Homo sapiens: one gene and its partners. The protein of the gene in region 1 interacts with the protein of each later gene in a pairwise test. Each region holds a gene or a part of one and is shown in the gene's direction. Other genes may lie near its edges.

Region 1 (3,653 bases):
ATTAGTCTTAGGTTTGCACGTAAGTCACTGAAAACAGTAAAACAGGCTGCTTAGATTTCTAGCAGTATGTGTGCTCTTATCCCCAGCTGTTAGCACGTTAGTAATACTTTTGGGGAGGAGTTGTCTGTCCTGGTCAGTTTTCACAGAGGCGGTTGTAAGAGGATGTGGTTATTTTCTCCATGTCTGTAGTTGCTTTGCGGCATCTCCATTTCACGGGCAACACTCACTGCCTGCAGCTGAGATTCCAGAACGCCCTGTGTCCACAGTGATTAGCCTCGTCTTTCAGCGAGCATAAAATAGGTGCATTGTCCTTTTCTTTTCTTGAGGCAGGGTCTCACTCTGTTGACCAGGCTGGAGTGAAGTGGTGTGATCCCAGCTCACTGCAGCCTCGACCTCCCTGGCTTGAGTGATCCTCCCGCCCCAGCCTCCTGAGTAGCTGGGACTAGAGGCACGCACCACCGCGCCTTTTTATTTTTTTTGTAGAGACAGGGTCTCACTGTGTTGCCCAGGCTGGTCTTGAACTCTTGGCCTCAAGCGATCCTCCTTCCTCATCCTTCTAAAGTGCTGGGATTACAGGTGTGAGCCACAGCACTCGGCCTAAATAGGTTTTTCTTGCTATGTTATTTTCAGTGCTTTGCCCTTGAATTCTTTTCCTCTCTTAAATTCATATCATTTGGCCGAGTCAGCACGTAGTTTGCATTCCAGCGTCTGCTGTTGATTCCACTGAAACCTCTGTTCTCATGAAGGAGAGGATTTGGCTCGCTGTGGTTTCTCGTACTTTCACATCTCTGTAGATACAGGGGCAAAAGTCATTGCTGACAGAGCCCTATCTATGTCCTGGAAGTGTGTGTTTCTTGCTTTGAATGCATGTGTGAAGATTATAAAAGCCAAATAGTTTTTAAAGATCTCGGTGCTGAACGACAGTCCCAGTTCCCATTTGTGTCCCATTGTCTTTGTGGTGTCACCCGCACTGTTTGCTTCATTGTCTGGGGAACTTCTGCACATCATGTACTTTGTGCCATTTCTGGGCTCACGTGTCACTCCTAATAGAGCCTCTTAACCAAGACTGCTGGATTGCAGCTGCTTGAGGCAACACAGGAGGTTAGAACATGTCCCGAGGGCTCTGAAACAGTAGGACATCCTGGGTGGGTGGAGCTGGGGAGGGCATGGGCAGGCCAGCTGGCCGAGCTCCTGGCTGGCTCTCCTGAGTCCTCTGGACATGGCTTGTCCCTGTCAGACTGTAGCTCTTCAGGACCTGAGCTCTTCCCGTTCTTGATCTGCTCTTGTGCTGACTGTGCTGGGCTGATGGGTAGGCGCTTGTCCCCAGTGAGTGGCTGTGTCCTCAGGGTGCCCCTCTTCCAGACCAACTGCAGCAAGGCCTGGAGCCTGACTCTAGGTGCAGCCCTTGTGGCTGGAATCCCTTGTGCCACCCAGGGGACTCGGGCCCTGCTCCTCCTGCAGCCCCTCCTCACCTGGGCTCGCTGCTGGAGTGAGGTTTTTAGGGAGCCCAGAGCGTACTCATCTCTGAGCTGCTGGGCCCAGCTGCCTGGTGCATACCTCTTGCCTCGGTCCTGTCCCCCAGAACGCTTTATGGAGACTGCCGTGTCCTCCGAGCACTTTGTTTTCACTTCCTGACCCGTCTCAGAAGCTCAAGTGGTTGAATGTTTTAGCCTCAGAATCTTTTTCCCCAAGCCCTCTCAGGTGGAGCCCCGCTGTACCAGACACCACAGCACAGCTCTGTGAGGCTGTGTCTCTTCACTCTGTTTCTGGGGCTGCTGAGGCCCCTGGGAAGCCCTGGAGCTTGCCAGAGCAGAGCGAGAAAGTCTCTGGTCCTGTTTAAATGCCTCCGCGTTTTATCTGTGAGCACCAGGCTGGAGCCACTCCCTGTCTTCTCACAGTGCCCCTGCAAGTTGCAGCCTCAGTTTTCCAGTGGCTCGTGGGGTAGCAGGTGCTGCGTCATATGGTTTGGGACCTCTGTGGCTGCTTCCAGCCTGCTAATAGAACCTCTTTCCACCACTGCCTTCATCTTTGGGGTGGCACCCCTGAGTGCTCAGGCCTGAGGGCGCTCCTGTGTCCTCACTCGGGACAGGCAGCCTCCACTCTGGGAGCTCCCATCCCTCGGGATGCCCAGGAGAGGCCATACTTTCAGGGTGGCATGGTGAATTCAGGGGTTAGGATGGGTAGGTGGTCTTTCAGCCCCTTCTACGTTGGGGTTGGTTTACAGAACACCTGTCCTGCCTGTGCCAGCCTGGCCTTCTGCGAGCACCCCAGGCACGCTGTCCTGGAAGTTGTCTGTCTCCTGCATAGGAGGGTCTAGAGCAGACCTTGCCCTGGGCCTGTCTGTGCGTGACTTCCATATGCTTCATTCGTGCTCAGCCATGGCTGAGCATGCGATGGAGAGCACCTGGACTGCCCCTGACGTCGCAGGCCACTGTTCTTATCCAGTGGGCCAAGTGATTGATTGCTAGTGGTGGAGTTGATTGGAAGAAAGGAAGTCGCAGCCCCTGCCCACGGCTTCCCCAGCTCGCTGGGGTTGGAGGACTGTCATCAGTTGTCCCCAGTTAAAGTCCATTTGGAGGAGGTTCAGGGTCCCAGTGGCTGGATGTGCTTGTGGAGGGACACGGTTTGAGGCAGGGGTTTGCAGAAGGTGTAGACTGCATCCATTCTTGGGAGGCTGTGGCACAGGGCAGCGACAACTTGGGACAAATCAAGACCCGTCCACACTGCACCTCAGGGACCTCACCTCACGCCCCACATAAATGTGCTTATTGGGGATCCGGGTGTGGTGGCTTCTGCCTGAAATCCCAGTACTCTGGAAGGCCACGGCAGGAGGATCACTTTAGTTCAGGAGTTTGAAACCAGCCTGGGCAACATAGGGAGACCCCATCTCTACAGAAAGTAAAAGAAAATGAGCCAGGTGTGGTGGCATGTGCCTGTAACCCCAGCTACTCAGGAGGCCGAGGCGGGAGGATCCCCAAGCCCAGGAGTTTGAGGCTGCAGTGAGTTATGGCCTCTGCACTCCAGCCTGGGTGACAGAGTGAGAGACCTAATCTCTAAAAACAAAAAATAACAAAATGTGCTTTGGGGTCAGGTGTGGAGATCAGGGTCGGGGAGGTCATGAGGTAGGTAGGGGTCAGGATGTGGACAGTCATGGGCTGGTGGGTGTGGCAGCCGTGAGGGGTGGGTGGTGGCCTGGGAGGCAGGGCCTGGGCAGGGCTTCTGCACTTCTGCTGCTTACCCAGCCCCCTCTGGGTTCGAGGACTCTCCTTGACAAGGGCTGAGCTCTCGGGCACTGCGTTGGACTCAGCTGCCTACTGGGAGGCTGGGGAGAATGGACCTGTGAGACCTTGTTTGTCCTCTTCCCTGCCCAGCTCTTGTAGACCCCAGGCCTGGCTGTCCGCAGGGCCAGGAGCTGCAGCCATGGCAGCCACCAGCCTCCCACATGAGCCCCAGCTCCCAGCCCCACACGCCCACTCCTTTGCCCATGTGGTGTCAGCTCTGGCCTCTGCTTCTACACATGGACCCTCAGACCTTGCACATCTGTTGTTTCCCTTGCAGGGCAGTGATGATGACATGAAATGAGGTGGGGTCACTCCTGTTTAGGGATGAGACTGGGGCCCAGGGAGGGGCAGGTGTGAAGTTGCTGAGGGCAG
Region 2 (3,752 bases), on another chromosome or scaffold:
CCAATGTGAATGTCTATGGCTTAGGAGAAGGCTAACTATGATTGAAGCTGTTTACAGAGCAGAATACTCACTTGAGAGGTTCCTGGTTTCTCAAGATATTTTTGTTATGGATTTTCTGGATTGCAATAGAAAATGTGATGGAATGTAAAGGAATCATTGTTCAGAAGCAAATTGTGTTATACTTATATTATCAATTATAGGCATGGCAGTAAAACATTCTCTGTCCTAAGACAAGGCAGAACAACTCAGCAGCCCTACTTATGGCTACTCTAACAGAAAACTTTCATTCTTCAGCAGAACCAAAGCCAGAAATCTACACTTGTTCCTCCTGCCTTCTGGCCTTCTCCTGTCAGCAGTTCCTCAGTCAACATGTACTTCAGATCTTCCTGGGCTTATGTGCAGAAAATCACTTCCATCCAGGGAATTCTAGCCCAGGGCATTGGAAACAGCAGGGGCAGCAGTATTCCCATGTAAGCTGTTGGTTTGAAAATGCAGAAGGTCAGGAGAGAGGAGGTGGCTCCAAACCCTGGTCTGCAAGGACAGAGGAGAGAGAAACCTCAAGGGCATTCCCCAGCCCACTCCAAAGACAGTCAGCAAGTCCTAGAAAAGGCAACATGGTGGTAGAAACAGAGCCCAGCTCAGCCCAAAGACCAAACCCTGTGCAGCTAGACAAAGGCTTGAAGGAATTAGAAACCTTGAGATTTGGAGCAATCAACTGTAGAGAGTATGAACCGGACCATAACCTGGAATCAAACTTTATTACAAACCCGAGGACCCTCTTAGGGAAGAAGCCCTACATTTGCAGTGATTGTGGGCGAAGCTTTAAAGATAGATCAACCCTCATCAGACACCATCGTATACACTCGATGGAGAAGCCTTATGTGTGCAGTGAGTGCGGGCGAGGTTTTAGCCAGAAGTCCAACCTCAGCAGACACCAGAGAACACATTCAGAAGAGAAGCCTTATTTGTGCAGGGAGTGTGGGCAAAGCTTTAGAAGTAAGTCCATCCTCAATAGACATCAGTGGACTCACTCAGAGGAGAAGCCCTATGTTTGCAGCGAGTGTGGGCGAGGCTTTAGCGAGAAGTCATCCTTCATCAGACACCAGAGGACACACTCCGGTGAGAAACCCTATGTGTGCCTGGAGTGTGGACGAAGCTTTTGTGATAAGTCAACCCTCAGAAAACACCAGAGGATACACTCAGGGGAGAAGCCTTATGTTTGCAGGGAGTGTGGGCGAGGCTTTAGCCAGAACTCAGATCTCATCAAACACCAGAGGACACACTTGGATGAGAAGCCTTATGTTTGCAGGGAGTGTGGGCGAGGCTTTTGTGACAAGTCAACCCTCATCATACACGAGCGGACGCACTCTGGAGAGAAGCCTTATGTGTGTGGTGAGTGTGGCCGAGGCTTTAGTCGGAAATCACTCCTCCTTGTCCACCAGAGGACACACTCAGGGGAGAAGCATTATGTCTGCAGGGAGTGTAGGCGAGGTTTTAGCCAGAAGTCAAATCTCATCAGACACCAGAGGACGCACTCAAATGAGAAGCCTTATATTTGCAGGGAATGTGGGCGAGGCTTTTGTGACAAGTCAACCCTCATTGTACATGAGAGGACACACTCAGGAGAGAAGCCTTACGTGTGCAGTGAGTGTGGCCGAGGCTTTAGCCGGAAATCACTCCTCCTTGTCCACCAGAGGACACACTCAGGGGAGAAGCATTATGTTTGTAGGGAGTGTGGGCGAGGCTTTAGTCATAAGTCAAATCTCATCAGACACCAGAGGACACACTGACGGGAGAAACCTGTGTATGCAGGGGTCATGAACAAGACCTGAGTGACCAGTCAAGCCTCATGTTACCCCAGAGAGACACATGGGGAGTAGACCCTGTGTACACAGATTGTGAGTGAAGTTCCAGAGATGTGTCAGCCCTTATCAGGCATGGGAGGGACACGTTCAGGAGAGGAGCCTTATGAGTATAGAGTACGGGCAACTGTAGCCATCAGTCAGCCTTGAGCATGCACAAAAGGACACACTTAGGAGAGAAGTTTATGTGTAGGGACTGTGGGAAGGCTTTAGCAATAATCAACATTTACCAGACATCCAATGACAGCCTCAGGGGAAAGCACCCTTGTCTGGGGAGTGTTGGGGAGCATCAGTAAAAGAATGGACACTCAGGCACAGAGTGGCCCTCAGGAAGGAGGTCTTTGTTTGTAGGATGTATGGGCAAAGCTTTTGTGATCACACACCACAGGGAGAATCTGCATGTGGGGACACTGTGGAGCTCTGCCCAGATGACCTTTTCAGGGGTAACACCCCAGCTGCTTGAGAGAACAGTGTTGCTGCTGGCAGAGATGCATTCCAGAGATGCACTCCGCTCTGGAACTCACTCTCAGCCACAGGGAGCTGCATGCACCACAGGGGCAATGCACCTTTGCAGGGGTACCTTCTGGCCCCAACCCTTGACTCAACGGGGACAACTCCAGAAGGTCATTCCAGATCCAGAGATCCCCATCGAACTGAAGGATCACTGGGTTGCAGACACATTGCAGGTCAGCTTCTTCCTCTGCCCAGTCCTGCCCTCACTCCCCAGTGAATCCTCAATTTTCTGTCTCGTTGTCTGTCCAGATAATTGATTCTAAGACATGTTAGGTATATAAGGAGTGTAGATAAGGCTTCAGCCATGAGTCACCCCGCAGTAAGCCCCAGAGTATATTGAATAGAAATTCTGCATGTGTGGGGAGAATGGACAAGGACTTAGGAAAAAGTCCTCATCAAAGAACAGCTTTTTTGGGACAAGCTTTACATGGGTGGGGAGGGAAAATGTGAAACACATTAGCAATAAGTTAAACCTCATCTTGTACTAAAGGAGGACACACTCAGGGAGAAGACCTCTGTGGGCAGGGCTTGTGGGTGGAGCTTCATCCCGATGTCACTCCTCAACTGACTTAGGAGGACAGTCTTGCTACCCCAAGTCACTACCTCACTCACCTCTGAGGGATTTTCAGGAAATGTCTTGACTCCCCCATGTACTCTGTATGTGAGCGAAGATGGCAGTAACTGTTAAATAAGCATTCTTTTCTACTTCTTGGAATCAGATGAAATAAAAAAGCAGGCTTTATTTAAGTAATCAAAAAATGATCAACTTGTTTTATTTTCATATACCAGTTCTTTCCCGTGTTTTCTTATCCCTTTGTTTTAGTTCAAAATTTCTTCAATAAGTTCAGGCTGTGTAGCTTGGCCACTCATCTGACTGAAAGGGTGCAAGGAATTCAAATTCACAGTCAGGGTTTCCTGCATAAATTCAACCCTTGAGAATCAATCTAATAGATTTTTTTGGAGAATTTGATCCTTTTCATGTGGAGGAGTGATTAGGTTCTAGAGACAGGCCAGTTGCAGGGAGGGGATTTTCCAGGTCTCCAGGGCTGGGCTGCCTCTTCTCCAGACTGATCACTTTCTTCAGCTTCTGTGAAAGCTTCCTTCCCTAGGTATTCTCTCTCTCTCTTTGTGTGTTTCTCTTTCTCTCCCCATCTTGCCTTCTCTCTTTTTCTTTCTTTCTGCAGGTGTCTTTGCTGAATACTTCTCTATTCCACTGAATTTTTGCAGTCCTTAATGATCTGCTCATGTCCTCCAGTTCCAGGGACCCTTTAACCACATCCCCTCTGCAGCCTTCCAGATTGCAGAGGCAGGTCCTTTAACCATGCCCAAACTGTTCTCTAGTCATGAGTCATTGCTTTGGGCCTCTTAGCTACTCCC
Region 3 (3,009 bases), on another chromosome or scaffold:
TTTATTCTCATTTTCAATGAATGATATCAAGGGGTCTTCTCATTAACTTCTCAAAAAGTATAAACAGAGTTACCATGGCAGTGAATCGCCATTGCTTTTTTTTTTTAGTACATTTTTTGCTGCAGTCTATTTTGCTGGAACTATTGCTGCTAATTAACAGCTGGTTTTTAATAAATTTGCTTGCAGCTATTTGCTTTGCCCATTTATAGGAGTTAATTGTGGTCTCGCTGCTGCTGAGTGATTCCCTAACACAATATGCCTGTGATTCTTTACAGAATAAACTATGTTGTCCTGTTTCTTGGAAATCACAGGATTAATTAACTGAGAAGATGTTAAATTGAATTTTAAACCAAAGTCAGATGAAGGCTTACTGGCACAAATTTTGACTAATGTCTTTTTAATGTCTTATATATTTAATTTGCTGAAGTCAGAATATACTGTTGGTAATGCATTCAGAGCTAGGTTTGGGGTTTCTTTATTCTTCTCTGCAGTCTTTAGGGTATAGTTCTTATTTCTCATTTTGCCCTTCCTTTCAGCTCCCCAAGACTTGTCTTTTGATATTCACAGACTCTGGATGGGTTTTTACTTACTTTTCTAAAAAATATTATTGTTATTCACAGTGAGTGCGTTTTAGCAGCAGTGTTTCTTTTTCAGTTTTCCAGAGTATCAGGAAATGCCCTGGTGATAGTTTTATCTATTGTAATCAGTCCTTGCTATTTCAGGTTCTCCTGTGTAACACTAGACTCCATGGCCCCTCATTATACTAGATTTGGCAAATATCTGACAACTACGTTGCTCAAGTCAGGCTTTAGGTCACCTTCAAACTCTTGACGACCACTACCACTTAGAGAAAGTAGCATGATGTAATATAAAAGACCTAGGAAATGGTCAAGAGACTTGGTTCTACCACTCACTAGCCTTGTGACCTTAGTCAATTTCACCTTTGAGGCGGGGGCCGGGGGAGACTTGGTTTCTTTATTAAATATGGGGGTTAGACTGGGTACTCCTCCACACCCTTCCCAGTATGAATGCCATTGGTACATTGGAACTGGGCCATTCCTAGTATTAGGAATGCTTGCTTTACTTGGAGGTCTTAGCTTTAGTTGGAGGTCCAGAGGGCAATTCTTGGCCCTCTAACAGTTCAGATCCACTCATGGGAGCTAAAATGGGCTAAAGTGGAGGCACTAGTGTGAACCCAGTCACTATGTGGCTCCATAAAGCCTGCCATCTCTGGAGCTGTGATGAGAGGGTCATCACAATTCCAACAGATCTTAAAGCCGGGAAGTGACATTCTACAGATTTGAACCCAGTTCTAAATTCATATTCTTTTTGTTATATCCCTTGCTTCCTCCACAGAGTAAAGATTACAACACTGGTGCTTTTATCATCTTTAATGGATTGGGGATATGGCTTATAAAGAGTAAAAATTACAGTAGATACATAAAATAAAAGAAATTGGCTGGGTGCCATGGCTCATGCCTGTAATCCCAGCACTTTGGGAGGCCAAGGCCGGTGGATCACTTAAACCCAGGAATTCAAGGCCATCCTGGACAACATAGTGACGCCCCGTCCTACAAAAAATACAAAAATTAGCTGGGCATGGTGGCACGCGCCTATGGTCCCAGCTACTCCAGAGGCTGAGGTGGGAGGATCGCTTGAGCCCAGCAGGTTGAGGCTGCAGTGAGTTGTGTTTGCACCACTGCACTCCAGCCTGGGTGACAGAGCAAGACCCTTTTTCAAAAAAAAAAGGAAAAAGAATCCTCTGACAACAATTATTGCATGAAATCTTTTTTTTTTTTTCAGATATCTTTATACAGTCATAAAAGTATATAAAACCTAGGTACAATATAAAAAATAATTATAGATCAATCTAATGTGGCCACCACCCATGTTAACAAATAGACCATTGCCAGCACCCCAAAAACCCTATGTGCCATTGCAGATCACAGCCCTCTACCTCTCCCCAAGAGGTAACCACCATTCTAACTTTCAGGATAAGTACTTCCTTGTTTTTCTTTGCAATTTTACAGTGTGTGTACCTATCCTCAAACAATATAGTTGTTTTGCCCATTTCTGAACTTTATATAGATCATACAATATGTACTTGTCAGTGCTTTGCTTCTTTTGCTCAGTATTATATTTGTGAGATCTATCCATGTTGTGGCATGTAACTGTAGTTCATTCATTTTCCTTGCTTTGTTTCACTCCATTATAGGAATAGACCACAATTTATTTATCCATTCTGCTACTAATAGATATTTGGGTGATTTCCCATTTGGGGTTATTGAAGGACAGTACTATCCTGAACATTCTTGAACATGTCCTCCCTTGGGACTCATATGTGGGAGCTTCTCTGGTTATATTCCTAGGAGTGTAATTGTTGGTCATAGGGTATGCAGATTTTCAAACAACTGTGACTGCTGAACTTAATTATCACCAGTACTTTTAATCCATATTTTTTTTTTTTTTTTTTTTGAGACAGAGTCTTGTTCTGTCACCCAGGCTGGAGTACAGTGGCGCGATCTCGGCTCACTGCAAGCTCCGCCTCCCAGGTTCACGCCATTCTCCTGCCTCAGCCTCCCGAGTAGCTGGGACTACAGGCGGCCACCACCACGCCCGGCTAATTTTTTGTATTTTTAGTAGAGACGGGGTTTCACCGTGTTAGCCAGGATGGTCTTGATCTCCTGACCTCGTGATCCACCCGTCTCGGCCTCCCAAAGCACTGGGATTACAGGCGTGAGCCACCGCGCCTGGCCTAATCTATACATTTTTGATGAAAATTTAAAGTCTTCTGTTCTCGTCTAAAAAGGTTTGTCTTTCCTATAGAAAAATGCAAGAATGGCAGCAGAAAAGCATTATTCTAATACCCTAAAAGCACTAGGAATATCTGATGAGTTTGTTTCAAAGAAAGGCCAAAGTGGAAAAGTACTTGAGTACTTCAACAATCAAGAGACGAAAAGTGTCACTGAAGACAAAGAAAGGTAACATATATAAGATGTCTGAATGGCT

Evidence for each region.
Region 2: the proteins of JRK (region 1) and ZNF343 interact in binary tests that used the Homo sapiens proteins (3 or more experiments, as listed by UniProt).
Region 3: the proteins of JRK (region 1) and FAM161A interact in binary tests that used the Homo sapiens proteins (3 or more experiments, as listed by UniProt).

What each region holds. Positions count from the first base shown.
Region 1 is NC_000008.11:142,659,823-142,663,475, reverse strand, and holds part of JRK (jerky protein homolog), read left to right. Parts: 3' UTR 1-3,653. UniProt on the Homo sapiens protein: May bind DNA.
Region 2 is NC_000020.11:2,481,199-2,484,950, reverse strand, and holds the end of ZNF343 (zinc finger protein 343), read left to right. Parts: intron 1-294; coding exon 295-1,790; 3' UTR 1,791-3,134; downstream 3,135-3,752. UniProt on the Homo sapiens protein: May be involved in transcriptional regulation.
Region 3 is NC_000002.12:61,827,076-61,830,084, reverse strand, and holds part of FAM161A (protein FAM161A), read left to right. Parts: intron 1-2,826; coding exon 2,827-2,981; intron 2,982-3,009. UniProt on the Homo sapiens protein: Involved in ciliogenesis.